Linked DNA regions of Homo sapiens: region 1 is linked to region 2. The links come from fine-mapping of genetic effects on gene expression. A gene starts in region 2. The other region holds a variant in brackets. All regions are shown on one strand. Distances are from middle to middle. Region 1 overlaps LOC105373737 (a long non-coding RNA gene). Region 2 holds the start of TLK1 (tousled like kinase 1).

What was found.
Region 1: its variant is fine-mapped to the expression of TLK1 in whole blood (INTERVAL, PIP 0.97).

Annotation. Positions count from the first base shown.
Region 1 is chr2:171,282,610-171,299,015 of GRCh38, reverse strand. All of the region lies in intron 1 of LOC105373737 (a long non-coding RNA gene), which reads left to right. Among named protein-coding and RNA genes, the nearest start is that of TLK1, 130 kb to the right of the region's middle. The variant G/A (reference allele first, on the strand shown) is at 6,162.
Region 2 is chr2:171,152,651-171,169,056 of GRCh38, reverse strand. It overlaps TLK1 (tousled like kinase 1), which reads left to right and starts at 8,164. Exons shown (of 21, transcript NM_012290.5): 1 at 8,164-8,767. The coding sequence starts at 8,629. RefSeq lists silencers at 7,574-7,633, 7,764-8,483, 8,754-8,993 and an enhancer at 8,348-8,992.

The DNA of each region.
Region 1 (16,406 bases), 130 kb before region 2:
AAAAATAACAAACAAGCAAAATCAAACCACATACATACACACACTCACAAAACCAAAACCAAACCCAAACCATGCACATACACACATGCACATTACAAACAAATGTTTTAAGCCAGAGAGATAAAAGAAATTGTAAACCATATAAATTATTTCTCTTTAAGAATAATTGATTTTGTTGTTGTTGTTGAGACTGAGTCTTGTTTTGTCGCCAGGCTGGAGTACAGTGGCGCGATCTCGGCTCACTGCAACCGCTGCCTCCCGGGTTCAAGCGATTCCCCTGCCTCAGCCTCCTGAGTAGCTGGGACTACAGGCATGCACCACCACGCCCAGCTAATTTTTTGTATTTTAGTAGAGATAGGGTTTCACCTTGTTGGCCAGGATGGTCTCGATTTTCTGACCTCATGATCCGTTCGCCTCGGCCTCCCAAAGTGCCAGGATTACAGGCATGAGCCACCGCGCCTGGCCGTAACTGATTCTTTATATATAATTGTTGCCTAATTCCTAGCATACTGAGATCCTATTTATTTATTTATTTATTTATTTATTTATTTATTTATTTATTTTCTGAGATCTAATTTAGACCATGGAGAAGAAAAACAAAAAGGTGGTATTAATAAACTGCTTTGGGGAGTAAAAGAACCTCTTAGAATCCACGACATCATGGATGGAAGAGATCCTTAAGGAGGGAATGAAGCACAGCTCAGAGTGGGAAGGTTAGCAATGTTCAAGACCAAAGTTAATCATCTCTACATGAGTCAATTGAAAGAAAAGAATTAAAAGCATTAAAAAAAAAACAATATGAGTAATGGGAGGAGCTGATGAAGCCTGCTGCCCAGATGAGGATTGGAAACTATTTAAACTGGATAATACAGTATGTGTTTTAGCTCTGAGAAAACAGAAGTTGAACTTTTGAGTAGTAATCAAGGGCACGGTCTCAAAGTATTTGCAAATAGTGCTGGTATGGAGAACAGATGCCGACATTATTGCCAATGGGAATCACAATGTGATAGTTGGAGTGAGAGACTAAAAGAAACCACAGGGAATTTTTGCAGAAAGCTTGGCATTGAACATGATTTATGGTTGATTTAAGAAGGAGACAAGGAAAATAAGGCTACAGTGTATACCATCTGACTGCTGCGGACCAAGGATGTAAACAGTTAGCCATGGCTCTCCAACCTCCTGGAAATCAGGATTCTGCTCATACAGAAAGGCGCCAGAATGTTTGTCTGAGTTAAGTGCATACTTCTTTTTTAGTATCTAAGAATAGTTATCCTCCTTTCCTCTCCCATTACTGCTTGGGTATCCTTAAAAATCCTCACCAGCTATTAAGTATCATGGAGTTACGCAAAGAGGTCTGCAGGGAACTTGATGGCTTCCCAAAGTGGATCAGAGAACCTCACAGGAGGCCCTAGGCTTGAAAGGTGAGCAGCTCTATTTTGTTGCTCTCATGTGTGTGATGTACTTTTATGTTAGAAAACTGAGGTTTGGAGGATTTAAGAGAGTGAGGTGAATCTTCCAAAAATATCTAACAAAGTATGCTGAGAAGGTAAGTTAGAGCGGAAAATACGTGACCATTCCTTGGCCTTGGGTCACTTAAGTTATAACCTCCCTTCAGAGAGTAGAGAACAAACATTGCCTCTGAGACAAAAATAACTTCTTTTTTGTTTGTTTGTTTGTTTGTTCTGAGAGAGGGTCTTGCTCCGTCACCCAGGGTAAAGTGCAGTGGCATGATCATGGCTCACTGCAGCCTCAACCTCCTGGGCTCAGGCAATCCTTCCACTTTAACCTCCCAAGCAGCTGGGACTACAGGTGCATACCACCACGTCTGGCTACTTTTTAAATTTTTTGTAGAGACAGGGTCTCCTTATGTGGCCCAGGCTGCTCTCAAAGTCCTGTCCTCAAGCCATCCTCCCACCTTGTCCTCCCCAAGTGCTGGCATTATAGGCATGAGCCACCATGCCTGGCCAAAATAAGAACTTTTTGAGCTATTCTATAGGGCGTCTGAGTTTTGAAACGGGAAAAGAGAGCTATATTTGACTAAAAATAGTAGGATTTTCATGTGAGAGAGACAATCTAGAGGGAGGTCAGTGCTGGTCCTCAAATCCTTGGGACTACTAGAGAAATGGGCTCATATAAGGGGAAAAGATGAAAAACAATAACAACCAAAATGTTGCCAAAGGTTAGAAACAATGAGCTTTAATACCTGGCCAGTGACAATGCTTTCTGAATAGCAAAGGAGACAGATTAGATGAGGAAAATAAGGTTAGGCTTTGTGCCCAGGAACCTGAGCCACTGAAGCCTGTCAGTGGCCAGAGTTCCATTACCTTAGGAAAATGGCTCCAGGCTCTCTCAGTATGTCTGTTTATAGGCATTCTCCCCGCATTCATATCTCACCCTTATTTCCTAGTTGTGTTTCCTTTGAAAACTTATACTCCTCGAGCCTGTGCTAAGACTGCAGAGGTCCATCCAAACCTGGACCACAGTAACTAGCGAGATCCAAGTGCACCCTTGGTGTGCAGGGTGCCTGTCTCAGGAGCATAGTCAGAGAACAGCTGATACAGCGAGGGTAGATGGAAAGGTGAAGATTATGTCTGTCTGCCTGCATTGTCCTCTCCACCCTCTTGTTTTCTTGGCAGAATCCTTGATCATTCAGGATCTGCTCAAATGTTAATATCTATTATCTCTCTGTAAACCCCATTGATGGAAAGAGCTCTATTCCCACAGCATCTTGTACACAGCATTAATTATGCATTTGCTGCATTATTTTCTAATGGTTTGTGTGTCCATCTTTCTTACTGGACCATCAACTCTAAGATGTTAGGGACTGTATTTTGCATCTATCTCCAGCCCTAAATCAGTATCCAGAACTATATTGTGCCGTATGGTAGCTGCCAGCTACATGTGGGTATTGAGCAGTTGAAATGTGATAAATTCCAACTGAGATTGTTGTGAGTGTAAAATACACATCAGGTTTTGTCAACCTAGTATGAATAAGAGAATGTAGGCTGGGTACAGTGGCTCATACCTGTAATCCCAGCATTTTGGGAGGCTGAGGCAGGCAGATCACTTGAGGCCAGGAGTTCAAGACCAGCCTGGCCAACATGGCAAAACCCTGTCTACTAAAACTACAAAAAATTGGCCAGGCATAGTGGTGCATGCCTGTAATCCCAGTTACTTGGGAGGCTGAGGCTCAAGAGTCACTTGAACCTGAGATGCAGAGGTTGCAGTGGGCCGAGATCACACCACTGCACTCCAGCCTGGGCAACAGAGTGAGACTCTGTCTCAACGAAAAAAAAAAGAGAGAGACAGCCGGGCGTGCTGCCTCAGGCCTATAATCCCAGCACTTTGGGAGGCCGAGGCGGGTAGATCACCTGAGGTCAGGAGTTCGAGACCATGCTAGCCAACATGGGGAAACCCCGTCTCTACTGAAAATACAAAAATTAGCTAGTTGTGATGGCAGGTACCTGTAATCCCAGCTACTCAGGAGGCTGAGGCAGGAGAACCACTTGAACTCAGGAGACGGAGGTTGCAGTGAGCCGAGATCTCGCCACTGCACTCCAGCCTGGGTGACAGACAGAGACTGTCTCAAAAAAAAAAAAAAAAAAAAAAGGGAGAGAGAGAATGTAAACTATCTCACTAATAAATTTTTATAATGATTACATGTTACAATGATAATGTTTGGGATGTATTGTGTTAAATAGGATATATTATTAAAATTAATTTTATCTGCATCTTTTTACTGTCTTTCATGGCTACTAGAAAATTTAAAAGTATATATATGGCTCCTGTTATCCTTTTATTGGGCAGGGATGGTCTAGAACATAGTAGAGGCTTGAGTCAGGGTCTTAGCAGGCAAAAGAAAATACATTCATTTTGGATTTTGAAGAGATGTTAATGAAGGGGCAGTTTACAGAAGTGTGGGCAAGGTTAAGGAAACCCACAAAGGATGCTGAAGCACCAAAAGACTAGCAAAAGAGGGGAGCAGTTAGCCTACAAAGGAGAGGAAAAGCCGTTACTAGAGCTGGTGAGCACTGGAGGTGCCTAAGAGGAGCACCCAGCAGGAGCTCCAGTTCCCGTCACTGCCAGAACCATGCCTTGCTCCCACTGGCTGTAGGGAATCAGAAGCTGGAAGGCAGAGATCCTGGATGATGCAGCCCTTAGGGGACCGCTCCCACCACCCTGGGCAGAGAAGAATGGAGAATAGGTGAGGGCAGGAGGAGAGCATGGGATAAAGAGTAATGAGCACAGAGCTCAGTACATTTGTTCAGTGAATGAATGAAACGAAACTAGTCACTAAGGAGAGAATGGAGGACGGTGGAAAATTAACTTTTTCCCATCTGGAATTATTTTGCAGTAGTGCTTTTCAAACTGTTCTGTGACACTGAAGAGTTTAGTGAAATTATGTTAGGGGTTCCACAGACATTTCTTTCTTGTTCTAAATATGTATATTTCTAACTATTAAAATACTGTCCTTGAGGATGGGCGCGGTGGCTCACATCTGTAATCCCAGCACTTTAGGAGGCCAAGGCAGATGGATCACTTGAGGTCAGGAGTTTGAGACCAACCTGGCCAACATGGTGAAACACCATCTCTACTTAAAATATAAAAATTAGCTGGGCATGGTGGCACATGCCTGTAGTCCCAGCTATTCGGGAGGCTGAGGCAGGAGAATTGCTTGAACCTGGGAGGCAGAGGTTGCAGTGAGCTGAGATTGCAGCACTGCGTTCCAGCTTGGGCAACAGAAGAAGACTCCATCTCAAAAAAAAAAAAAAAAAAAAAAAGAACTTCCCTAAAGCACAGGAACATGCACATCCAAACGTGTTATATATCAAAATTTTTAACATATGGGAAACAGGTCACACGTCAACTTGTGCTGCCAGGTGAATTTTTGTGCAAGCCTAAAAACAAGAGTTCCTCCTGTCTCTTTTGTGCTTTTATTTGAACATCATTTTTTATTCTTTTAATTTTTCTAGTCAGTCTCTGCTTATCCATTAATTGAATATCTTAAACGTGTCACTAATTAATTTTTAGGTCTGCATTAGTCTTTTAGAAAAATTCAGGTCTACACGTGTCCGTTTATATAAAATTGCACACATTTGTATACCATTGTAACACATGGGCACAGGTCAATTAAATGCTGAGCAATGTTCAGGAATGTGTATTTGACACGTGTTCATGTCTCATCATGTATCTCACTTGCTATCATGTTTATGTAAAAATGATACATTCATGTTAAGGAATTCTACAATAGCGGATACTGTAGGAATTCAATCTGAAATGCATTTCTGGCTATTTGCATTTGATGTTCCCTATGCCTTGAAGATATTTCCTTCAGCTCTTGGTAAGGCTGAGATTAAGATGTTCCTTAGTTCTATTTATCCTTTTTATCCTTTAGCTTTTAGCTGAAATGTTTCCTCCTTGGGAAAGGCTTCCCTGACCACCTAATCACTTAAGTAGGTTCCCCTCCCCATTCTCTCTTTAAGCCTTATTTCAGCCTTCATAGCACTTATCACAATTGGTAACTGTTTTACATAATTACCTCTTTATTGGTTTTCGCCTGTTTCCCTAGCAAGAATTTAAATTTCATCAGTGTAGGGATGGGGTCTCTACTTAGCATGGGTCAGGGACTATTTGAGCTTTACCCATATTCATTCATCTACTCACAATCACCTTGTGAGGGCCCCTTTGAAAGACAAGGACACCGAGATGCAGAGAGGGTAAGTGGCCTGGTCAAGGTCTCCTAAGCTATTATATGAGAGAGCCAGGATTCAAACCCAGGAATCAGTGGGGGCCCAAGAGTACAGCAGCATGTTAATATTAAAGGCTTCCAGCTCCAGGTCACGAAGTGCTAACAAAAACACCGGATTTTTTTTTTCTTTTCTTTTTTTTTTTTTTTTTTTGAGATGGAATCTCGCTCTGTCGCCCAGGCTGGAGTGCAGTGGTGTGATCTCCACTCACTGCAACCTCCGCCTCCCAGGTTCAAGCCATTCTCCTGCCTCAGCCTCCTGAGTAGCTGGGATTACAGGCACCCACCACCACGCCTGGCTAATTTTTTGTATTTTTAGTAGAGATGGGGTTTCATTATGTTGGCCAGGCTGGTCTTGAACTCCTGACCTTGTGATCTGCCCACCTTGGTCTCTCAAAGTGCTGGGATTACAGGT[G/A]TGAGCCGCTGTGCCTGACCAGGCTAACATTTTTTGAAAGCTTCCCACGGTGCTGGGTTATGTGAATTATTTTTACTATTACAATAATCTTATGAGGTAGGTACTATTATCCCAATTTACAAATGAGTTGAGACCTAGAGAAATTAAGTACCTTTCCAAAGATCACCCAGCCCAAAAATGGCAGAATGAAGATTTGAACCTATCCTCCTAACCATCTTGCCCTATCACCTGCCTGGAATTCCAATTCTCCTACACGCTACATGGTACCTTGTGTCAGACCATGCGTGGACATCGATTTCTCATCCATGAGTTGGAAGAATATGTATTTGCTGGGCCAGATGCAGTGGCTCATGCCTATAATCCCAGCACTTTGGGAGGGCAAGGCAGGTGGATCACCTGAGGTCAGGAGTTCAAGACCAGCCTGGCCAACATGGTGAAACCCCCTCTCTACTAAAAATACAAAAAAATTAGTCAGGCTTGGTGGTGCACACCTGTAGCCCCAGCTACTTGGGAGGCTGAGGCAGGAGAATTGCTTGGGAGGTGGAGGTTGCAGTGAGCTGAGATCATGCCACTGCACTCCAGCCAACAGAGTAAGACTCCATCTCAAAAAAAAAAAAAAGTATCTGCTGAGCACGTCTGTGTTCTCTGGGTGGAGAGCTGGAGGGTGGGTATATGTAGATGAGGTGTATTAGCAGAGGTCACCAGGAAACCTTTTGCTCATTCTAATCTAGTCCTGTCCTCTCCAAATGGTGTTCTTCTTGGGCCTCCCAGTTTAACATTGTCATTTCCCTGTGGAAATGCTGGGAAACACAATGTGTGGAAATTAAACAATATACTCCTAAATAACCCATGGGTCAAAGAACAAAGAAGAAATCAAAAGAGAAATTAGAAAATAATTTGAGAGGCAAAAAGTACTTTGAAAAGAGGAAAAATGAAGACACAACATACCAAAACTTAGGGGATGTAACTGAAGCCTCCTGTGTACAGAATAGAAGGGACTTCAAAAAGTTCATGGAAGATTATTAAATTAAAAGATAAAAATGAAAAATATAAGCTTTATTTTTCAACATAAGCTTCATCAAGCCGAAGACACTTTTGTAAACAATGATACCAGCCATTTAGTCTTTTCCTAAAGAACGTAGGGTCCTGGGAATGTAACCACGTCAAGGCAGTCTTTTTTTTTTTTCTTTTGAAATGGAGTCTCACTCTGTCACCCAGGCTGGAGTGCAGTGGCATGGTCTCCGCTCACTCCAACCTCCACCTCACGTGTTTAAGCAGTTCTTCTGCCTCAGCCTCCCAAGTAGCTGGGATTACCGGTGTGCACCACCATGCCTGGCTAATTTTTTTTTTTTTTTTTTTTTTTGTATTTTTAGTAGAGACAGGGTTTACCATGTTGACCAGGCTGGTCTTGAACTCCTGGCCTCAAGTGATCCACCTGCCTCAGCCTCCCAAAGTGCTGGGATTACAGGCGTGAACCACTGCACTCGGCCAGGGCAATCTTTTTTGCATTGTCAACTGAAGAAAAATGGATGCACTGTAAAGGATATTTTTAATTTTTATTTTTAGAAGCAGGGTCTTACTCTGTTGCCAGGCTGGAGTGCAGTGGTGAGATCATAGCTTACTGCAACCTTGAACTTCTGGGCTCAAGCAGTCCTCCTGCCTCAGCCTCTCAAGTAGTTAGGAGTACAGGTGCATGCTGCCACACCCAGCTAATTTGTTAAATTTGTAGTAGAAATGAGGTCTCACTATGTTGCTCAGGCTGGTCTCGAACTCCTGGCCTTAAGCAATCCTTCCCCCTCAGCATCCCAAAGTGTTGGAATTACAGGTGTAAGACACCAGGCTCAGCTAAAGACTTTTTAAGATTATGAAACAGAAAGAATTTCAGGGCTGGGCACGGTGGCTCACCCTGTAATCCCAGCACTTTGGGAGGCCGGGGCAGAAGTATTGCTTGTGTCCAGGAGTTCAAGACCAGCTTGGGCAACATAGAAAGACCCCTACTGATCTCTTTGGGACATTGTTTCCATAAACTTTTTGTAAAGCATCAATGATTTCACTATTTTTCTACACAAACCATAAATTTGATGTTGGTTTTTTTTTTGTTTTTTTTTTTTTAGACAGAGTCTTGCTCTGTCCCAAGCAGGAGCACAGTAGCGCTATCTCAGCACACTGTGACCTCCACCTCCTGGGTTCAAGCAATTCTCCTGCCTCAGCCTCCCGAGTACCTGGGATTACAGGTGTGTGCCACCATGTCCTACTAATTTTTGTATTTTTAGTAGAGACGGGGTTTCGCCATGTTGGCCAGGCTGGTCTGGATCTCCTGACCTCAGGTGATCCGCCCACCTCAGCCTCCCAAAGTGCTGGGTTTACATATGTGAGCCACTGTGCCCAGCCTTAACATTAGTTCTTGCTTCAATTTTATTAATAGCAGAATTCATGTTGCTCTGATGGGGGCTCTTCTCAGACTGATGTCTTATCCTTCTTAGTGCCCCAAACTAGATCCTGTTCAGACATGCCATAACAAATTAGTATGAGTTTATTTTAGTGCAAACATTTTGAATTCTCTGCATAGTTTTTTGATAATACACATTTTCCATGAATTTTTTTGAAGAGCTCCTCATACGTGTGTGTTTAACTTATTTCTATCTTCTCTTTCACATGATTCACTTTTTTTAAAAAAAATCTATTTAAGCAGCACTTACTGAAGGCCAACTCTGGGCCAGACACTGTGCTGAGATTTGGAGACACGGATGACCAGAACACGGTCACAGTCCTCTAGGGATGCTAGGCAGATGGAGCACATAAACTAATGATTACACCAATTAGTTGGCCAAGGATTTGAACCAGGATTCTAGTCAGCAGGACCAGAGGAAAGATACTACCCTTTTGACCTGTTACTGTCTCATTTTGTCTTTTATTGTATCTTCCTCCAGCTTTCCTTTTCTCTCAAAGACTTTCTTTTCTGGCTATCTCATGTTCCCCTTTTTCCCTACTTTTTAATTATTTATACAGCCAATTCCAGGTGACCTCTTTTGTGAATTTTATACAATTAATGCTTGGCCCCCCAACTGCTGGAATCTGGATTTAATCCTCCACCATCTGCCCCCCACTCCCCAGAATGATGAATGCTCAGGGAACAGGGATTAATTGTAACATTAGCCTAAGGAAAGCTGAACTAGGCAGTCATTAGTTCCTTACCACTCCCTATTTCCTTGCTTTCCACAAAATTTAGGATTTCTTCCCAACCCACATAGAAATGACTTTTTAAAAAAAATTTCTCAGTTCTCTGCTCCATCTCCATTGGCACAAACATTACAAATAGATGTCTTGTGACTTCTTTCCTGCTGTCCCTGGAATTGTGGAATGTTGTTTTGAAATTCTTCTTTGGATTTTTGTATCCAGAGTTATATCCCCAATTCTTAGCATACTGCCTGACACATAATAGGTTTTCAATAAATATATGTGAAAATAAATGCAAAGTGAAAAGAGAGAAAAATATTAGTAGATGATTTTTGCATGAACAATGTTGCTATGTTTTTATTTAGAAGTTTATGCATCCATTTGACCCCTAAATTATATCGTCCTCAAGAATAAGGGGACTAGTTTTTCTTCTTCTTTATATTCTCTCCTGCCCTGTGCCTAAAATAATACCTGATACGGCACAAAACCATAATCTATATTTGTTGAATGAAGAATAAGTAAAGACTAGACAGTTGATATCTGTGATTGATGTGGATGAGGATTTATATTATTAATGTTGTCTTAACTATTTTCTGGAACAAAGTGTAAATAACTTGGGTAAATAAACTATAAATGGGATTAGAAGAAGGTCTTGGAGAAGAAACGTCATGGGTGGCACTAATGCTGGGGGAGCCCCCGCTTACGATGGGTGTGCCTGCCGCTGTTTCACTCCCCTGGAGAGAGAACTCTGGAGATGGCTTTGCACATGGAATGGGGGTACAAGAGTGTGAACACGTGGCTGTGGGATTTTAACATAGTAATTGCCTTCCAAACACTTGAAAAAGACTTTTCTAATCCTATTCTATTGCTATTGCCTCTGTGTTTTCGCCTCATATCACATTTAAATTCTATGACTTGTCCAGTTAATGTGGACATGCATAACAAGTGGGCCCAGATCTTATTCTAAATGGAAGCCAGAGCCACTGTCCAGACACTAGGAAAGCATAATTACCCCAAGAGCAGAGTTGTGTTTTCTGAGAGGGCTTTGAGCAGTGTCTATGGAGCCCCAGATGTAAATTTCCGCATTAGACAAGTAAAAAGATTTATGAAACACGTTTCTCCTCTTTCTTGGAGAAAAAAAAAAAATCTTCTCTTTTGCGAAAAGACTTAGTGTTTGAGTACTTCTTGACCCTTAAGGGAAAGGAGGAAAATTATATCAGAAGTCTATGCATGCTAAAATAACATTCATTCAAAATGAGGAGTGATTGATTCTTTCCATATGTTCTTATCCTATTTCAATTTAAATTAATTTTGCAGGAGTCATTAACTATCTCCACAAAATTTGCTGGATTTTCTCCGAATGCTGGCTTTGGCACACCTGCAGCCAGTGCATGTCTTTATGGTTAATCTGTAGGAACCAAAATTAATTTCAGTAAAACAGCTAAATGGTCCTCAAGAGTCCTTACTCATGTGTCTGGTTAGCATTCACCAGGGGCAGTAAACACAGCCTGACAAGGGTGATAGAAATGTTTCAAGGGACCTTTCCAAGTTTTCTCACTATCTTTTTTTCTTTTTTAAATTTGCAGGTGCAAAAATTCCATTTATAATTCTTTAATTCCAAGGGCAATGGGTATCTTGGGGTCTCAGATTCAGGACAAGTGGCCAGCTGGGACACAATATTCTGCTTGCAAGTCATGGCAGGTGCAGAAGGAGGGCAAGCCATTAAAAGTTTGGCCTGTTCTCCTTTTCTCTCTTTTTGTGCTTCCTTTTCCTCTTCTAGACGGGTGTACAATTACACGAGCTGAATTAGTTATCTCCCAAAGCTGTGCTGTTGTACATCCAGGAAAAGGACTTGATTACTCAACCCATGGTTCCAGGAGCCTTATTTGGGTTCTTTTGTGCAGCAGAAGAAAAAAGTGCTGAGTGCACCCTCTATTTGTTTTGCGATTTGCCTGCTGGGCACATTACTTGCTATCACTCTGGTTTCAATAGATGTCTTTCCACGGAGATTTTAGGATGTCTATATTTAGAAAACAATAAAATATGTATAAGATGGAAAAATTAGGGGAAAGCAGAAGTGTGCTGAGGAGGAGAGAAAAGGGCAAGAGACAGTCATGGATCCTTCTCATGACAGGAGCTGCCCCTAGCATCCAGGCTTGACTTCTTTCTTGCCTTGCCAAGTGTTCCACTGTGCAATGTGGAGTTATTAAGTGTGGAGATGAGGGGAGGAACAAGAGACAAGGAAAACCTAGCTCCAGTACTCTGGTGTCTTTGGAGAGAGTTTTGCCAGGGCATGTACTGGACACAGTGTGAGAATCCAGGAAGGCAGAGACATGTCAGCTGTGAGAAGCATATCCATGCAGTTATTATGGCCACATGTAATCTTTGCTGGGCTTTGTCAGCATATGAGCTGCTGATGAGGATGACTTCTTTCCCAACCAGGAATGGTTTGTATGGCTTTTCTGCAAGCTATTGCTGGGAGTTTAGGTTTGGGGATTCCTGAGGTGGGTGTAACTAGAAAAGGCTCTGGTTTATCTTCACTCAGACTTTGATGATTTGAAAAGATTAACAGGCAAAATACTCAAAGATTAAAAACAAACAAATGGAAAAAGAAAGGAAGGATGGAGAACTTGAAAGCAAGGAAGAAATGACTTTTAGATGGTCTAGTCTCTTGTCCTGTGTAGCTATAATGACTTCATTGCACATGATCTCAGATAGTAGGTTAATTTGGTTCTGGGCCTGGTATATGTTTGTTCAATTTTATGTGGTCTCCTTAATGCTGTATGGAATATTGTAAATTTGTAGTTATTTATTTATGTATATATTTACTTACTTATTTAACTGTACACCTAGCATAGAGACACAACTAGTTGGGTACTTAACAAATAGATATATGAGTTGCCATAGCTACAAACTACTACTAACAGTAGGATGTTCATAGCCATTTTCTTTTTCTTTTTTTTTTTTTTTTTTGAGATGGAGTTTTGCTCTTGTTGCCCAGGCTGGAGTGCAATGGTGCGATCTCAGCTCACTGCAACCTCCACCTCCTAGGTGATTCTCCTGCCTCAGCCTCCTGAAGAGCTGAGATTACAGGCGCCTGCCACCAAGCCCAGCTAATTTTTATATTTTTAGTAGAGATGGAGTTTCACCATGTTGGCCAGGCTGGTCTTGAACTCCTGACATCAGGTGATCCACCCGCCTCAGCCTCCCAGAGTGTTGGGATTACAGGCATGAGCCACCACGCCCGGCCCCCATTTTTTTGATATTAAAAATGCAATGAAAAAAACAGAAGAAAGGGTTTATTTGGCCAAAAAAACCATAATGACTTTAAGATGTATAATTTAACACCAATTTCTTCCTTAAAAAGTTAAAGGCCTGTGATCATTTTAAGTGATATGATTAGGAGAAATAAAATTGTGTGATGAAGTAGCCACTATCAGGTTTCAGCTGCCTGGTTAGACTTCACCACAGGACTAGCCCTGTCTCAAAACATCAGATTCTGGTGTTGTGAATAAGAAAGTATCCCCCAGTAGTCCATCCTTCTATCAGGGGAAATAACTTTCCTCCAGCATTGAATCACTTTTCTAGGTAGAAAGTTTTGGATATAACTCCTTCTGAAATGTTCCTCCCCAGGCCAGACCCCTGAACTTTCCTGAGGAAAGGAAGTGGCCCACAACCTATCTCTGCCTCATGGTCTCCCTGCAGACTAGAAAAAAGAAAATAATACTATCAGAAAACTTGAGTTCCACTCCTGGCCCAGCCACTCTTGTGCAATGTAGAAAAATTAACTTCATTTCCCTGGACCTCAGGTCCTCATGGATGTAAAGAAGTGTGCTACTTGCTCTGATACTTCAAAAGACAGTTTACAGAGTAGCAAATAACGTCATGAAAAGAATGACGGCTTTGGAGTCAGCCAGATCTGGTTCATTCTTCAACAAATCTTTATTTAGCATCTACTATATGCCAGGCGCTATTCTTGGTGCCAGATGCTGCCTACATGAAGCTCACATTTTAATGTGGGGACCAATACTAGTTTGTGGCCTTGGGCAAATCATTTAGCCCCTCTAAGCTTGTTTTTTCCACCTGTAAAATGGACATTATAATAACATTTCAAGATGCATTGTCAGGATTAGATACAATGATATTTAAAGCACCTATTATACACTAGAGGCTCAATGAATGGTATGTAAATAATACTATACGATACATGATAAAACACTTTTTTCAATTGTACGATTCTATCCAGATAGGCAAATTATTATTTTTTCATCTCTGTACTGTGTGACTCTAAAGCCATAGATAATCACAAAATTACACTGCAGATTTAATAAATTTACTTCTCTTTACTGCCTTAAAAGCAACTTCATTTATCAAAGAAATATTTTTTGAGTCTCTACTATGCATTAAATACTAGGCTGGCACTAGGGATATGGAAATAAATGAGACTTCCCTGCCCTTACTTAGGATCATAGCAGTAAATGTTTGGATTTCACCAGGGTCCTCACTTTTGGAGAGCTTATTCTTCTAGAGTTTGTATTAGTTATTGACTGTTTAGAAAGAAATCAAGAAAGGAAAACAACCCTCTAATTGGCAAGTGGGTTAAGCTAAAGTTTTCTTAGAGAGACCTAAAGCTGTGTATATAAGACCCCTGGCAATCTCACTCTACTCAAAATGAAACAGATAGGAGAACACATCTTTCCTATAGATGCCTTAGAGGTAAAATTTCAATCTACCAACATCTTTTGCAACAAAAGAAAATCAATTAAGTTATTTACTATACCCAGCCATGTGACCAGTGTTGTTACACATATTTCAGAGATATAAATGAAAATAAGGAGATATTCCTGGAGCTCAGCAGGAGACATGACACCTGCCCTTGAGGCAGGAGGTAGAATGTGTTCATTTATTTACTTATTTATTTAGTCACGAAAAATCTGTTTAGTAACCATGGCCTTTGAGGAATCACACTGAGTGCTGGGAATACTAAGTGGGAGAACCAATAAAGTGGAAGAACAGTTATTGAGCACCTATTGTGCACCAGGCACTGTCCATCATTTTACCTCCATCATCTCAATGCATTTCCATCAATCCTAAAAGAATTTTTTTCTAAAAAGGGTTGTATGCTTTGACCTCAAGGTGTTCATTGGGGTGTGAGAGGACAGAAAGCATCAATCCACAGCGAAAAGGAATGCCATGGAGGAAAATGCCCAGAGCCAGTGAGCTCAGTAGAGGAGAGAATGGTTCACTGTCCCCAGAGGGTAGGGGCAGGCTTTGAAGAGGTTGTGGCATTCTAGTTTTTAAGCAGGAGCAACACAGGTGAAAGAGATCACTACTAGATAGGCAGGGATACAGATGACAGAGAGATAGGAATTGACAGCACAGACCATTCATGCTATAGGAGCTGGCCAAACCCCAAGGCTCTCAGAGCACCAGGTTACCAGTTGCTTCCCAAGCATTCACCCAGAGTAGTTGCTCATCTGAGAAGCTCTGTTTCCCTGAAATAATGACACTGGGATTCAGATTTCTAGCCCAATTCATGGTGCACTTGGGGCCTCACTTATAACCCATTCTTGGTTTTATGAAGCAAACAGTTTCCTTCTGCTCTGTGCTCTGTTTTAGAGTCAGGAGCTGATCTTTGCACTGATGCCATGCTAGATCTTTATTTGTTTTGTGCTGATGAGATTTAGGAGTGAGAAGTGGAAAATAAACTGATCCTCTCTATCTCCCACTACTGGGTTTTGATAGATAAAGTGGTCCTCTTGAAGTTTTTCTTCTTTCATTTGGAAAGTGTCATAAGATGTAGGTTAAGCTGGGTGCGGTGGCTCACGCCTGTAATCCCAGCACTTTGGAAGGTGGAGGTGGGCAGATCACGAGGTCAAGAGATCCAGACCATCCTGGCCAACTTGGTGAAACCCCGTCTCTACTAAAAATACAAAAATCAGCTGGGCATGGTGGCAGGCGCCTGTAATCCCAGCTACTCAGGTGGCTGAGGCAGGAGAATCTCTGGAACCTGGGAGGTGGAGGTTGCAGTGAGCTGAGATCACTCCACTGTACTCCAGCCTGGTGACAGAGCAAGACTCCATCTCAAAAAGAAAAAAAAAAGATATAGGTTAAGCAGTAAAGTGTGGTGCCAGGCTGGGAGTGGTGGCTCAGGCTTGTAATCCCAGCACTTTGTGAAGCCAAGGCGGGGTGGATCACCTGAGGTCAGGAGTTTGAGACCATCCTGGCCAACATGGTGAAACCCCATCTATACTAAAAATACAAACATTAGCAGGGCATGATGTCGCCTGGTGGTAGTCCCAGCTACCCAGGAGGCTGAGGCAGGAGAATCGCTTAACCACGGGAGGCAGAGGTTGCAGTGAGCCAAGATCGTGCCACTGTACTCCAGCCTGGGCGACAGAGTGAGACTCCATCTCAAAAAAAAAAAAAAAAAGTGTGGCACCAGATAGACATAAGTTCAAATCCCAGATCTACTTCTTATTAGTTGTGTGATCTTGAGCATTGACTTTTCACCCAAATTTGGACCCAAATTCTGAGAGGTGAGATACAACTATAAATTTGGAGTGCACCAAGGAAAAATTTAGAGAGCTCTTCTTTACTCCTCTGTTATTGGAATAAACAGGTATAACTCAGTGATCACATCTAGAGCATCAAGGCCATAGAGAAAGAAAAAAGCAACCACAGGCTGGCTCTCTAACTAGTTTACTCTTCATTGCCTAATTCAGCAAGCTAAATACCTGATCCAAAAGGAAATTATTAAGAGTTTTTTGCAATAAATACTGTATATAGGCTCCACTTTATCTTGGAGGTCTGTGATTATGTTTAGAAAACAGCTTTTATTGAAAAGCTAAACTTATGAATAGGTAGGAGGCTAGAACTTTCGACCTACAATAATAATAATAGCAATCATAATAACTTTGGGAGGCGTTTACTATAAGCCAGGCACTATTTTAAGCACTTTATTATGAATTGATTCATTTAATCTTATAGTCATCCTATGAAATAGGTACTATCATTATCTCTATTTTAAGATAAGGAAATTAGGCCAGGTACAATGGCTCATGTCTG
Region 2 (16,406 bases):
GCCCAGGCTGGAGTGCAGTGGCGAGATCTCGGCTCACTGCAACCTCTGCCTCCCAGGTTCAAGCGATTCTCCTGCCTCAGCCTCCCAAGTAGCTGGGATTACAGGCATGCGCCACCACACCCGGCTTTTTGTATTTGTTGCAGAGACGAGGTTTCACCATGTTGGCCAGGCTGGTCTTAAACTCCTTACCTCAAGTGATCCACCTGCCTCTGCTTCCCAAAGTGCTAGGATTACAGGCATGAGCCACTGCACCCTGAGCACACACTTCCAGAATAACTCTCATCATTATAAATAAAATCTCAATGTAACTATATTGTTGTGATAGTTCTATTAACATTTTAGACTTAGCATCATCTTATCTCCCATTATTGGTGTTTATATTATCTTGTATCTATAGCTAAAGTCTGTTTTAGACACCAGTTCTTTCCAACCCCTATCTTCCAAACTATGAATTCTTTTTATGATTCAGTGATTCATGGTTCATTGAATTATGACAAATCCATGGGAGAATGTTCCTAATTTGCCCCCAAAGTCCTGGGATTACAGGCATGAGCCACAGCGCCCTGAATACACACTTCTAATCAGCACCTGGATCATGAAACAAAAAAATCACTTGCAGCTCAGAATCCCCGCTCTTACTTCATGGTGGCATTTTGACTGTTTATTTTTTTATTTTTTTATTTTTTTTGGAAGAGGAGGAAGAAATTCTCATCAATATTTTACATTCCCATATTGTTTCAAAGTTTCTAAATTCATATGAGGTTATATATGTCTCCTTTGCCATGTATCGAATTAAGAAAGATTTGGCATTTAGTTTTTATTTTCTGGGAATGCATTAAGTAATTCTGAAAATCTTTAAACTATGGAGTGGGAAAGATATTGTCGAAGATCAAAGATATTTGATATTTTTTACGAAAAGAAACTTCCATTTCTTTTGCCTACAAAAAAATTTATGCTGCAGAAACAATGTCCAGGGTAAGATTTTGGGCATTTTTGTTTTTCCCTCTTAATGTGATAAATTTATATTTTGGTTTAATCAGTAAAATTTAGGATAAGTAAAGTGTAACACTAGATTATAATTATAAATTATAATTTATATATTTTTAAATTACTTTTCAAAGTTGCCTGCTTTGTTAAGAGGTACACTATTGATTCAAAATTTGTAATATGAGCACTGTTTGCTTGTTGTACTTTGTTTTTGTAAACATTTCATAATACCATGTCCTTGGAGGATAGCTTCTAGTGCACTTTGGGGGAGGGGATATTATTGTTCTGAAGTTGGTTACAATTATTTAACCTCAGGTGAAATAAATCTAGTAATTCCAGTTTTTGTTTGAGAATCTAGTAATTCCAGTTTTTGTTGTGTATGGACCAAGGGTTTTCTTTTTTTCAAATGGATTGACAAATCTGAGAGAAAACATTTCCATCACTGGAGGGAGCAGAGGAAGTGTAATCTAGCCTATTATATACAAAAGCTTGGAACTATCTCTTCAGGATTTGGAAACCAAAACTTTCAAGCAGTGGTTTTGTGAATTGTGCAATGAAGATAGAACCAACTTAATGAAATGAGAATTCTTCATAATCTAATGTAATGGAGCCATTTGTCTAAGCAACTAATCAAAAAAACTATTGAGGGGGCGTGTTGAGATTGCAGGGTAGGCATCTTAAGAGCTCTGATCTATATTCATACCTTTGGACAAAGAAGGAAACAAAAATTTGGAGGTGAGTCCAGGCAGAGGAGGCCTTGTTGACATTTCAATTCACTCTGATAAGAAGGAAGAAGGCCCAATACTCCTCATTTCAACATTTGTAATGTAATAATTCATACATGTAAGAGTAGATCTAATATATACATGTAGTTTAAAGAGAAAGAATAAGACAAACATACCTCCGTACTCCCACCCAGCTTAACAAGTGGTGCTTTTAGCAGTGTTTTTGAAGTCCCTCTGAGTTCCCATGATCACATGTGCCCTTTTCCTTGAAGGAGGTAACCACTCTGATCTTGGCTTCTCATTTCCATTTTTTTCCTTGTAGTTTAATGTATTCCTGAACAATATATGATTTAGTTTTGAATGATTTTGAATATTTGAGAAGGAATCAAACTGACTTTGTTCTTCTGTAACTTGCTCTTTTTAATGAGCATTATATTTGTGAGCATTTTAATTGTTGTGTAGTATCCCACTGTACAAATATACATATCTCTAATTTATCCATTCTCTTGTTGACGGACATTTGGGTAATTTCCAGGTTTTGACTACTACAAACAGTAGTGCCGCGGACATTCTTGTTCTTATCTCCTGGTGCATAGCAGCAAGAATTCCTCTAGGATACATTCTTTGGAACGGAACTGCCAGGTCAGAGAATCTTCGTCTTTCACAGATACTACCTTACGAAATATCTTTTTGCTTACTTCAAAAGGGCTTGGGTTGCCAGATTTAGCAAATTAAAATGCAGGATGCTCAGATAATTTGAATTTCAAATCAATAAAAAACATTTTAGGATAAATATGGCCTACACAATATTCATAGTTTAATCTGAAAACCCTAACAAGGTCAGTGAACTTTATCAAACCACAAACATTGGGCAATGAAGGATGAGTGTGAAGGGGTGGTGGGGCATTTGGCCTATTCTTCCCCTGCTAGATGGCCAGCCCAGATGTTTATGAGCAGGTTAGCTCAGGGGACTCCAGTGCTTATTAACCAGCTGTGTAGGTAGTTGGTTGGCTCCACAACTGTATGCCAGGCAGGTGCTAGATGTTGGGTATTAACACAACTGTAACCATTACAGAGAAGGGTCCTTGCTCTCCCTAGGCTTTCAGCCAAGAGGGGGAAATAGAGAACAGAGAACAGTACAGCAATGACAAATGTACGATGGGAGCAGTGGTGTGCTGGTGAATGCTTAATAATTGGCTCTGATGGGGAGAAGCAGCTCTAACTTGTAGCTTTTGCTGACCTAGGAGTTATAACTACTCTCACCATGGCTGACTTCAAGCTACAATTGTAACATGTAACATTACTGAATGTGGAGTTGGGAAGCCATGTACATAATCTTCTCCCAGGACATTATGAACAGGCTCCAGTATCCCACTGTATGGGAGTACTCAGAAAGTATACCTCATCCAGTCTCCGGACTCATTTCTTTTTTTTGAGATGGGGTCTCCCTCTGTTGCCCAGGCTGGAGTGCAGTGGTGCAATCTCGGCTCACTGCAACCTCCGCCTCCTGGGTTCAAGCAATTCTCCTGCCTCAGCCTCCTGAGTAGCTGGGATTACAGGTGTGCGCCACCATGCCTGGCTAATTTTTGTATTTTTAGTAGAGATGGGGCTTCACCATGTTGGTCAGGCTGGTCTCGAACTCCTGACCTTGTGATCCACCCGCCTCGGCCTCCCAAAATGCTGGGATTACAGGCGTGAGCCACAGCCCCCAGCCTCTGGGCTAATTTCTTGTTGGTTTGGGGGAAAGGGGCTTAGGTGGCTCAGACATTAATTTTTTCCCTTGAATTTAGAAGTTAAGAGTATAAAATGCATTTTAGTATGTCTATAATATTGGATGCTTTGTAAATATTTTTACTATGGTATAGAAATAGAAAATAGTCTATTAAACATAGTTATAAATTATGATCATCCTATAGATCGGGGCTCAGACCTTCACCTTTTGCATCTGACCTTCCATCAGGAGACCCTTGAAGACTTCTCCTGCATTGCCCTATCACCTGAAACCCAGCTCATTGATCGTCATCATTCATTAATTCCACAACATTGACAGAGCCCTTGGTCTGTACTAGAGGCTTAAGGCCCTGTCCTCATGGAGCACTCAGAACGTTCTCTCTAGTCTCTTCCTGATTCTTTCTAGGCAGGTTTACTACCTTTTACTTGCTCAGTTCATTTCTGTGTTCTCAAGCTGGCTTTCCCTCTGGGAATATTCCTCCATGGAAGATTGCCAGAAAGCTTCCAATGATCTCTTCTTGCTCTTGAGATTTCTTCTTCCCTACAGAGTGGCACGTGTCTCTTTCTGTCTGAATCTGAACTCTTCTGACTTTTCTATATTTTTTCCTATTGTGTAATCTATCACTCTAGCCATCTAATCTTTTTCTTTTTTTTAGATAGAGGTGGGGTCTCACTCTGTTGCCCAGGCTAGTCTAGAACTCCTAGGCTCAAGTGATCCTCCTGCCTTAACCTCCCAAAGTGCTGGGATTACAGGCGTGAGGCACCGTGCCCAGTCTTGATCTATTTTTTTATCGGACATTTTTTGAATGCCCATATACTAGCAAATTTCAAGGTGTGGAGGAGCTTCTCCTTGCCATTTAAAAGTTTTCATTTATTTGACATAATCATTTTATAAAATTATGTATTTGCACAACTTATGTCCAGAGGCCTTCTTTATGCTTCAATTACTTCAATTACTTAAAACGTATTTATTGAACTTTTTCTGAATATAAAAAGAAATACATGATTTGTTTTACAAAATTTGGAAAAGCATACATAAAGAAATAATAACTATGTGATCTCACAGCCCAAGGCTAGTTATTATTAACTTTTTGGGGCACATCCTTCCAGTTTTTTTTCTTTTTAAGAGATGGGGTCTCATCATGTCGCCCAGGCTAGTCTTGAACTCTTGTGTTCAAGTGATCCTCCCACCTTGGCCTCCTGAGTACTTCCAGTGTTTTTGATGCATACTTAGGAATAAATCCAGATCATATCCATTTTTTCACTTACTATAGTGTGAAAATGTTATCTTCTCTGGTATTCTTTGAAGACATGATTTTAAATAATGGCATGACATTCCATTTTCAGGCTAAGCTGCAGTTTGTTTAAATAACTCCCCATTGCCAGTAAAAGCCTTTTTTTTAAAGGTTGGTGAGTGCTGTCTTATCAAAAACCACATGAAGACAGGAATCAAACATTTAATTGTCCTTCTAAGGAAGTATCCACAACAAAAATATAACTAAAGTAAGTTGATCATGTATATGCTGTAATCCTCTAGTTATCATTAAAAATAAACATAGCCAATCTGCATTAAATATAACATGAGTTAGGGTGGACGTGGTGGCTCATGCCTGTAACCCTAGCACTTTAAGAGGCCAAGGCAGGTGTACTGCCTGAGCTCAGGAGTTTGAGACCACCCTGGGCAACATGGTGAAACCCCATCTCTACTAAAATACAAAAAATTAGCCGGGCATTGTGATAGGCATCTGCAGTCCCAGCTACTCAGGAGGCTGAGGCATGAGACTTCCTTGAATCTGGGAAGCAGAGGTTGCAGTGAGCCAAGATTGCACCACTGCACTCCAGCCTGGGTGACAATTAAAAAAAAAAAAAGTACTATGAATTGGCATAAGGATAACTTAAAAACTTGAAGCTCTGGAGAAGGTTGGGAGAAAGATAACCTACCATCATCAAACCTTTTTGGTTGGGCTTTGTTTACCATTTTTGAGAGGAACTGAGCTCTGTACAGTCTCAGAATTGGTAGGAGCTTTAAAAATCACTCAGTGACTCTAACCTCTTTCTCGTAGATGAGGAAATTGAATCAAGTTACCTGCTGAGACTAATACTCAGGTCTCTTAACTTCCTTCCTGTCCCATGTTCTTTTCACCGCAATCTGCTGACTAAGCTTACTCTTAAAAATACAGAAAGAGCATACATTTATCAACATGTCATTACAGAAACTCTGTTCCTCTTATAGTGCATGTATTTAGGTATAAAAATCGAATGGCAAGATCCTGGGTATGTATCCAAGGGAAAGGAAAGCCTATGTCCACAGAAAGACTTGTACATGAATGTTCTTAGCAGCATTATTCGTAACAGCCAAAAAGTGAAAACAATGCAAATGTCCATCAATAGTTTAATGGATAAACAAGTGTGGTACACTCATTCAGTGTAATACTACTTAAAAATAAAAACAAACTATTGATAATGCAACAATGTGGACGAATCTCTCAAAAAAATAATGTCGAGTGAAAGAAGCCAGACAAGGCCTGGCACGGTGGCTCAGGCCTGTAATCCCAGCACTTTGGGAGGCCAAGGTGGGCGGATCACCTGAGGTCAGGAGATTGAGACCAGCCTGGCCAACATGGTGAAACCCCATCTCTACTAAAAATACAAAGTTAGCTGGATGTAGTGGCACGTGCCTGTAATTCCAGCTACTCAGGAGGTTGAGGCAGGAGAATCATTTGAACCCGGGAGGCGGAGGCTGCAGTGAGCCGAGATGGCACTCCAGCCTGGGCAAAACAGAGTAAGACTCTGTCTCAAAAACAAAAAACAAAAAACAAAACCAAAGCCAGACAAGAGTACAAATTGACTGTATGGCCTGCATTTATCTAAAATTCTATGAAATGGAAAGCTACCCATATGACAGAAAGATCTGTGGTTGGAGAGAATGGAAGTAGTGTGGAGGAGGAACCACAAAGAGGAAACTTTGGAGGGTGATAGATACATTCACCATCTTCCTTGTAGAAGTGGTTTCAGGGAGGTATACACATCAAAACTTATCAAATTGTACACTTTATTTTTATTTTTTTGAGACAGAGTCTAGGAGTCTCGCTCTGTCGCCCAGGCTGGAGTGCAACGTTGCGATCTAGGCTTACCGCAACTTCTGCCTCCCGGGTTCAAGCGATTCTCCTGCCTCAGCCTCCCGAGTAGCTGGGACTTCAGGCGCGTGCCGCTACACCCGGCTAATTTTTGTATTTTAAGTAGAGATGGGGTTTCACCATGTTGGCCAGGCTGGTCTCAAACTCCTGACCTCGTGATCCGCCCACCTCGGCCTCCCAAAGTGCTGGGGTTACAGGCGTGAGCCACCGCACCTGGCCAATAATTGTACACTTTAAATATGTGCAGTTTATTTTGTCAATTATACCTCAATAAAGTTGTTTGTGAGATGTCCCTCTTAAGTTTGAAAAGCAGACAAGACTAAAAACTCACTGAAGTATCTAAAGCACAAGGCAACTACAATTACTTCTGGAGATAACTGACAATCAAGGTTCTTTTCTAGTATGATAGTTTATCTGAACAAAACATTACTATGAGAAATGCGAAGTCATAAAAATAAAAAATAGAAACGACATTTTTGTCCCCCTGGTAATCATGCCATTTCCTCTTGTCTGTGCAGTAGCGCTATATCATAATCTTTTTAGTGCTCTATTCAATTTGGTTTTCTAAAGAGAGAAATAACCTTGTTGTACTTTTCCTGAACTAGAGTGCTCTTTTATGTACAAGAAGCCCAATCCCTGGTGTGAGTATACTTGTGTGGGTCTGTAGAAAGCTACACTCTATCTATAAATTTTAGCAAATGCTGTTATTTATTTTGGGATTTTTGTAGTCGGGACTCAGCGGAGACACTAGAAACAAATTATAAGTTTCTAGAAACCATACCTTCTGCAAGATGAACGCTGTATAGTTTTCCTAAATATGTGATTCAGTAATCACATTTTTCATTTAGATTTTCCACTTACTGTTTTAAAACAAAGAATTGCTATACCATACAGTCTACAAAACTGGTAATTTTCAATTTCCTCATTAAAGATTCTTCACTCTTTTTTAGAAAACACGAGAAAGTTTTATTTCCCAACTCTCCCACTACCCATGTTTATTTTCATAGCTCTTTTATTCGGTCATTATTCCCATTCTGCAGACGGGGAGGCGCACATACGTTTTTCTGCACAGTACAGAGGGGCAAGAAAGAAGGAACTCTCAACTTTTCAGTTCCATTTTGAGAAACGATCACATTGAACTCCCGAGAAGCGGCAGCTGAGCGAGAGCAGCAGCATTTCTCCCCGTGTTGGGTGTGGGTCAGGAGAGAGGCGCGCTTCCGCGGGAGACAGGGGGAGTCAGGTGGCAGCGGCGCTGGAGCCCGAGCGGCGCGGCGGGGGCGCGCCTCCCTCCGGCCGGCGCGGGGACGCTGCCCCCGCGCACGCGAGTCCGGCAACCCCGGGCTCCCGCGCCGCGCGGCGATCCGCGGGTGCGGCAGGGGCGCCCCGGCGCTCTAGTCTCTTCCCTCGCGCGCTCGCTCCTTCCCCATGCCCCCACCCCCCAGCCCCTGGCAGGTCCCTCCCCCAAGCCTGCTCCCGCGGCCGCCGCTGCCGCCGCCGCCGCCGCCGCCGCTACCGGAGGCGCAGGAGCCTCGCGATAGTGTTTGCACAGGCGGCGCGTGACGCCGCCGCCGCCTGTAACTGATGCAGAGGTTACCCCACCGCCTCAGCCGCCACCCACAGCCCGCCGCCGCCGCCTCCCGGGCGACGCCGGGGGCCGACGCACTGCAGAGGTGCCGGCAGGTTCCGCCCGCGGAAGTGTCCTCGGCCGGCGCAGCCCGCGCTCCGCCCGCGCTCCGACCCCGGCCCGGCTGGCACCCCCTCGACGCCTCCGCCGCCGCGCTCCTTTCCTCCTCCTCTCCTCTGGCGCGCCCGCTCGCTCCCTCGCTTCTCCCCCTTTCCCTCCTCCCTGTCCCCTCTCCTTCCCTCACCTCTTTCCTCCCCACCTCCCCTCTTCTCGGTTTCCTCCCCCATCCCCTTGACTCTCCCCTCCCAGCCCTCGCTCTCTCGCTCGCCCTCAGCGCGGCCCCCGCCATGACGGAGGCGGGTGCCGGTGCCGTTGCCGCCGCTGCCGTCGCAGGGGGGGAGTCGGGTTCCCAGAAAGTAGCTTGATGAGTGTCCAAAGTAGCAGTGGAAGTTTGGAGGGGCCGCCATCTTGGTCCCAGCTCTCCACGTCTCCAACCCCGGGCTCGGCGGCGGCGGCCAGGTCCCTGCTGAATCACACGCCGCCATCCGGGAGGCCCAGGGAAGGTAAGCACCGCCGCGCCCGCGCCCGCTCGCGGGCCTCCTCTCCCGCGCCGCGGACCCCCGCGCCCCCCCCCCGCCCCCCCCGCCCCGGGGCTTCTCCGCCAGACCCTGGGGTGGGGGATGGTGGCGAGGTGGACGCGAGGCCGCCCGGCTCCCCGGCTCTGGGGAGGTAGTGCCCTGGCTGTGGATGGTGGTTCGCGGGTGGCGGAGGAGACGGACGAGGGGGTGCGCGCTGGTGGGGACGGGGCGAGGCGCATAGACTCGCCTGGGGTTCCTGGGAGCCAGTCCTGCGAGGGTGGGAAGCCTCCCCCCAGACGCGAGCCCCTTTCTGCTCCATTTGCCAGTACACTCAGTACTCTTAACCTCCTGGCCTCCGGTCTCTGGTGGGTTTTCCCTCCCGCTGGAGCCTTCGTCCTCGAGCCCCCTCCCCTTCTCCCGCGCACTCCTCCCATAGAGGCGGTCCCCACTTTGCGAGCTTTGCTGCCCGGGACCTGGAGGATGCCCCTCGCTTGCTGGGTTTCTCCTTTGGGGAGAGACGCTGAAATTATCTGGGCAGACTTTGATCCCCTGTGTGGCCCCCTAGAGCAATTTAAACGACAGACTGACTCGTGGGCAGGCTTTTAAAACCGCCCCTCCAGATGGTTGCAACTTTCTCTCCTTCGCCGTTGCTTCCTGCGTGTTTGTGCGTTATATTCTCTGCTGCAAGTAGGCTACTGTTCTTCTGTGACAGGGTCGTGGGTTTTGTGGGAAATATCTGCGTAAAGGTTATTGCAAACACGCACCAAATCGGTTACAATTGTTTTCTAAGTTTTCTGGCTTCTTGCAAGCAAGTGGGCTGCCACCAGATGTAGCAGTTACACAGCTTGTAAGGCACCGGCGTGCTTTTGACTAAAATTTCAACTTGCTGTATCTAAGTATACAACATAAAATGAAATTTGGGAGAAAACACATTTATGGGGAATGAATAAATGTGCATGGAATGTCTTTTAACGCTCTTTAGTCTGGAAAAAGCTTAGCGGTATTCATCCGCAATTGGTAGACGGGCTGTTCACTCCTAGTTGTCGCACACGAGGAGATAGGCACATTTTCAAATGTCTGGAAGTTCAACCGTCTAGTGAATGTTTTAAAGAAATCAAGAGCTTCGATTTATGTAGGAATCGGTGCGAGTACTTTATTTTGAAAATATCTGTCGATATTTGCTAGTCAGAGCCTTGACAAGTGTTAATCAAGTGTTTTGTGCCCTGAATCCAGTGGTTCAGGCATAGCATTCTTTGTCATTTTGTTCCTGTGAGCATGTGTGAAAGTGACAATAGGCTTAAAGATTGGCATGAATATGCTCTAGAAAATTCACGGAAAGCTTTGATTTATGGGATCCATTAAACATGCGGAATACATTGACAGACGTTTCCCCCTTTCATCTTATCCCAACGCTGAGCTTTCATTGTTAGAATATAGAAGTTTATTTATTAAATGACTAGAAATTTAGTATATCTGGTGATTCTTTTGCACTTGAAAATTTTTAAATGAACGGTTTAAAATGTATTTCATAGAGAAGTTGATGCTTGCTTTTAGCATGCTTTTACTTTTGTTTGTAGTTTCATTAAGATGTTTAATGTTAGTGTTATGAGTTTAAAAAGACCATTTTATTGTTTCTTGTTTAAGGCTATATCATCATTCATTCATTCATTCATTCATTCGTTTCTCGAATATTTATTGAGCCATTACTGTGAGCCAGGCCGTGAACTGGATACTGAGGACATAGTGTTGAATTATCTCTTGATATCTGTTATCAGTATTGGGAATTTGGGAGACAAAACATCTAGATTGTGAGTTTCTGAGGTTACTTCAACTTAAAAACATTCTGCACTTTTCCTGATGTTTGAAAATTTGGAGGGGTTGGAATCATTTAGCTTGAACTTCCAAATAACCATAATTTTTTCCGGCAGTTTAGATTACAGTGGGTTTTTATGTAACCTAAAGTAGTGAGTTTCTGTTAATTCATGAAATCATAGGACAGGCTTTTGTGAAAGTTACACTTCACACCGAGTACCTGTATAGCTACAGGGGGATATTTCTTTTTGACCAACCAGCATGCAAGTTGAAACTATTAATCCTCTCTAGGGTTATATTCATTTTGAAGCTTGGCGATGTGTTCTCAGATTTCACTAACGCTAACAGGAATATGAAGCCCTGAGTGTCAAAATGGAGATGATTTCTATTGAGCGAAATCTCAGTTTTTATTTTAAGTGTTTAGCACCTTTTCCAGGTATACATGTTAGTACATTATATAAATTGATGAAGTTTTAGAAAGCTTTTTAACTGCTAGTTACTGCTAGTAAGAACCGTTAATATTAATGGAACTTGAATGTATTGTATGTATCACGGTGAAAACTAACTTTGTTTCTTGAAAAATTGAGTCAGTTTAACATATAGTAATAGAATAATTGAAACTTAAAAGAGATACACATGTATGTGAACTTACATAAATATTCTATGTGATGAACTCCTTTTAGGCAGACTTAACTTTGAAAATGGGTTATTTTTAAAAATATGCCATAAGCATCTGTAAAAGTTACTTATTTTGAAGTTTTGACATTTGAAACCACAAACCTAAGATTATGATCTGATTATTTTTGATGCTGTATGTTGTAGTTTTGTTTCTTTTTACCTTATTACCATTATCATATTCACATAGTTTTATCACAAATAAAATACAGCTCTATAAGATTTGGGAATCTATTAGAATTTAGGAAATTATGTGATAAATATAGTATAGATTTCTTTCCCTCGGGTCCCAAAGCTTTTCGCTTGTCAGTCTTGTGGTTCTGTTAGAGGAGTTCAGCGATGTAGCTCTAGATTTTCTGTTGAATCTTTTAAACCTATAATCTCCATCCCATTTTGTCTTCTATAATCCTGTGATTAAGGGAGTGACGAGTTAAAAAGGTTTTCAAGTAAAGGCCAGTTTTGCTTTGTTGAAGTCTAGGAACCTAGTGTCATATTGGCTAGATAAGTAGTTGGGTTTTTTTGCATATCAGTACATGGGTACTTTTGAATGGGTTATTGCTGAGAATCAGATGATTGATTATATAGAACACTTGCATTTTCTTTCCTGCTCCAACCTGCCAATTATAAATAATTTGCTTTACTTTTTTGTAAATAGTGAAAGCTTGGTCAAAAAGATTGTATGGGCCAGGAGTGGTGGCTCAAGCCTGTAATCCCAGCACTTTGGGAGGCCTAGGCAGGTGGATTGCTTGAGCTCAGGAGTTCAAGACCAGCCTGGACAACATGGTGAAACCCTGTCTCTACAAAAAATAGAAAAATTAGCTGGGCATGGTTCAGGAGGCTGAGTTGGGAGGATTGCTTGAGCCTGGGAGGTGGAGGCTGCGGTAAGCCTAGATAGCGTCATTGCATTCCAGCCTGGGTGACAGAGTGAGATACTTTCTCAAAAAAAAGATGGCATGATAGTTCGATTAAACTGTAAACTTCCTCTGTTTCCATATTTAAAGACTGCATTCCTTAGAAGAATTAAAGTAATTGACTTCAGATGATTTAGTAATGAGATGTTAAAAACGAAGGTGTACCAGATGGCCCTGTAGGCCTTTAATTTTTTGAAATCACTAGCTGGAGGAGGACAGGGTTATGTGTTTAAGGATTCTAGCTCATGAATAGATATGTGACAGATGTCTCCTTTACAATGGCACATTTACATATTAGAGGAGAGAGATAAAAGAGAGAAACCAGAACGGAGGTTTGAAAATCTTATGAGAAATAGACTATGCTTTAGCCTTTTGGCCTCAGGGCCTCTTTACTCTCTTAACAATTATTGAGGACCCCAAGAGATTTAGGTTTATGTAGATTATATCTACTAATATTTGCTCTTTTAGAAATTAAATGACAATTTCAAATATATTTATTAATTTAAACTGTGTTGTAAATAGAATTTTTTATGAAGAATAAATATGTCCTAAAACCAAAGAAACTAGACCAGTGGCATTGTTTTATATTTTTGCAAATCACCTTGATTTCTGGCTTACTTGGAGAAGACAGCTGGATTTTTTGTCTGCCTTCAGTCTGTTATGATGTTTTGGTTGAGATATGTGAAGAGAATCCAGCTTCATGTAGATATATGGTTGGAAAAGGAAAGAGTGAGTATTCTTCTTTGGTATTACATCAAAATTCAACAAGTGGCAGTTTTTTGTTTTTTGTTTTTTAAGTTACTGACAATGTGAAAGCATATTGTATTCCAAAAATGTCTCTAGGACCTACAGGAAGTCTATGGAAGATACATTTAAAGAAGAGACTAACGGTTGGGAGACGTGATAGCTGTCTCCAGGTATTTAAGAAACTTGGATTTCAGTAAATAGGATTTAAAAACCTGTTAATTTTAATAAATAGGAGGGAGAATAGATCCATTCTCCTGCTTTAGAAGGCAGACCAACGGGTGAAAATTAGGAAGACATTGAGGTCAGTCTAATTTTTTACCAGAATGTAAGAACTGTATGACAACTAGACTTGGAACAGTGGAACAGTGGAGCAACAATGGAACTCGCAACAGCTAACAACAATGGAAAGAAGTAGTTAGTTTTGAGAATTTAAAGTGGACTACAGGGACATATTTTTTGGGGAGGTGGAGATAAATTCTGTAGATTCTTACGATGAGTGCTATTGGATTAGTGACTTAAGGCTTCATCCAATTTAAAAATGTAAACATTCTGTGATTTTTTAAAAATCCCTAAATATAGTTAAACTATACTTATATATATTCATTAACGTTTTTGAATGTTCTTGCAAGTCAGTAGTATGAAACTACTGTTGTTGTTGACTTTATTACTATTTTGCATTTTTATTGTGCTTTTCCTCTGAGGATTTTTCTGTCTTTTCTTGTGTCAGCAAGATCAGTCTTCATGAAATCTTGCTAAATTCCCTGTGAAATATAATAAGCTTAAGACATTTTAGAGAACCAAATGCTGTTTATGATACAGTTTAGTAGAGTTGTAATATATTTCAGCACAGAATTTTAGAATACTATGGGGGCTGATTTTCAATTTTGTAAGAGAAATTATGAGCATAGTTTATATAGTCTTTTATTTGTAATTGTTTACGTGATTTCAGAAGTAATATGCTTAAGTTATTCTAATGTTTTTAAAGCTAGAGAGTCTGAAAAGAGGGAAGAAGAAAGAAAAGTGTTTAAATTGATCTCTTTTGAATTTAAAATGCATATTAAGTATAACTAGAACATAAAATGAAGAATTTAAATTCTCATCTTATTCCTAGAATTATACCTATAATATGTATCATTACTTATAACAATTCATATTTTAATTTTGCATGGCACATAATCTCTTCTGTGAGTTGGATTTTTAGGTGGTGGGAATTTAAGCATAAATTCTCATAACTTTCTTGGGGTCAATTTAATATTAATAAGTGTAGTAAGTAATAATACCCAGCTTGAGACCTCATGTACTTGTTGCATTTGGATTTAAAGCTCATTTCCTATAGAAGAGCTGTAGAAATCAGTCATGTAGTTTCATAAACTCCTTCATGCTTGTTAATAATTTTCAAGAATCTTAAAATAAATTACAGGAATATTGTTATGAAGTAGTAGAAGCAGTATGGTATAGGGGAGAAAGTGATTGTAGTTGGGATCTGAGGATAGTCTTTACTTTGCTATTAACTAGCTGTGTGACCTTGGGCAAGTTGCTTATCTCTGCTTCAGTTCCATAAACTAAGAATTACAGAGCTGAACCGGATCTTGGAAGCAATCTAGTACAAACCTCTCATTTTACAGATGAGGAAGCAGATAATTTGCACAGGCTTTCACTGTAAGACAGTTGGGCCCAAAATTCAGTTTTCTGACTCTCAGGTTGGTTTTTTTTTTCCATTATACTTTACAGCCTCTTTTCATCTGTAAAATGAGAGCATTGGATTAGAGGCTCTCAAAGGTCTCTTCCAGCTCAAAAATATTGTCATTCCTGTGACATTAGTCGTAATATAATTTATTAGGGGAAAGTTTGTAGCTTTTATTTATTGGTGAAAGAAATGTTTCTTGAAGAGGCAGTATAACCTTTGCAAGGTTATATTTTGTTTTTTTAAGAGAATATCATCAGGCGAGGTGCTATGTCTCAGGCCTGTAATCCCAGCTTTGGGAGACCAAGGCAAGAGGATTGCTTGAGTCCAGGAGTTTGAGACTAGCCTGATCCTGTCTCAAAAAAAAAAAAAAGTTAGCTGGGTATGGTGGCATATGTCGGTAGTCCTAGCTACTGGGGAGGCTGAGGTGGGAGGATCCCACCTTGATCCCAGCAGTTCAAGACTGCAGTTGATGCAGTGAGCTATGATCATGCCACTGCACTCCAGCCTGGGCAACACAGTGACACCCTGTCTCAAAAAAGAAAAAAGAAAACATCTTCATTAATACCAAAGGGTATTTAAGTTTATGAGCATGGTAAGTAGTGTGATAGGTAGTCTTGTTTTTTGTAAAACACTTATTAATATATTAATAATATAAATTGCGTAAATAACAGTGTGATACCCGGAAGTGAAGTAAGTAGGTGATTGTTCCTCAGAAAATATTGCTGGAGTTTATTTTATCTGGGACCCCTGTGTCTGCCCCTAGTTAAGTGCCTGTGTTGTTTAGTGTCTCACAGGATTGTCTGTTTCCATAGCATCTGCATCATGCTACTTTTATTATAGTTTTATTTATATTGTCTACTAGACAGAAAGGTCTTGAATTCAGAGACTATATTTTGTTCATTTTCGTATTTTCAGTGCACAGGAGGACATCCTCTACAGAGTTGGCACTCAACTAAAAGTTTTGTCAAAGGACTGTTTCACATACATCATCTCTCTATATATCATGGTATGCACATATTTCAGACCCAGGAAGATGCTTATTTTAGTAATTCTTAAGTGAACTATATTTTAGAGGGTGATATGGATAACAGTAACAGTAATAGCTAAAGTTTATTGTGTTCGCACATGTTAATTCTTATATCTCATAACTCTGAGTTACATACAGTTGTTATTCCCATCTTCAGATGAGAAAACTGAAGCACAGAGAAGTAAAGTGACTTACCAGTGTGACCTAGAGTAGTACATGATGGGGATTTGAACCAAGTTGGTGTATTTTAATCACTAGGATATATTGCCTAAAATATGAAAATTTGGTTTTTAGTATTTTAGTAGTTTTTCCTAAGCAGATTTTAACTTACTAATCAGACTTCCAGGCTTATTCATTTTACTTCTAAACTTTTGTTAACTTTTTTTTGCATGAGTTTTTATACACGTGTGAAGATAAGATTTAAAAAAATACAAAAACCCCAACCAAACAACCCAATTTAGAAAGCTGTACCAGCTGTGCAAATCCTACACTTCATTTTTTTAAGATAAGTTTTGTCCATTCATGGAAAATGTTAGAGATACATCAATGAAAAATTTTATTTCCATGTTAGATAATCTAATTTGTAATTCCATTTATCTTGATATTTTGGCCTCATAAACCCACTGGAGCCATAACAAGTAAATACTAGAATTTGAACAAAAAACTTCCCACTGTCAGTATCGGAGCAGTCTATTTATTGTGGAGGCTTTATAACCTGATGGACAAGGCTTTAAACTAAATTATAATGCTTTAGTGGCAGATCTT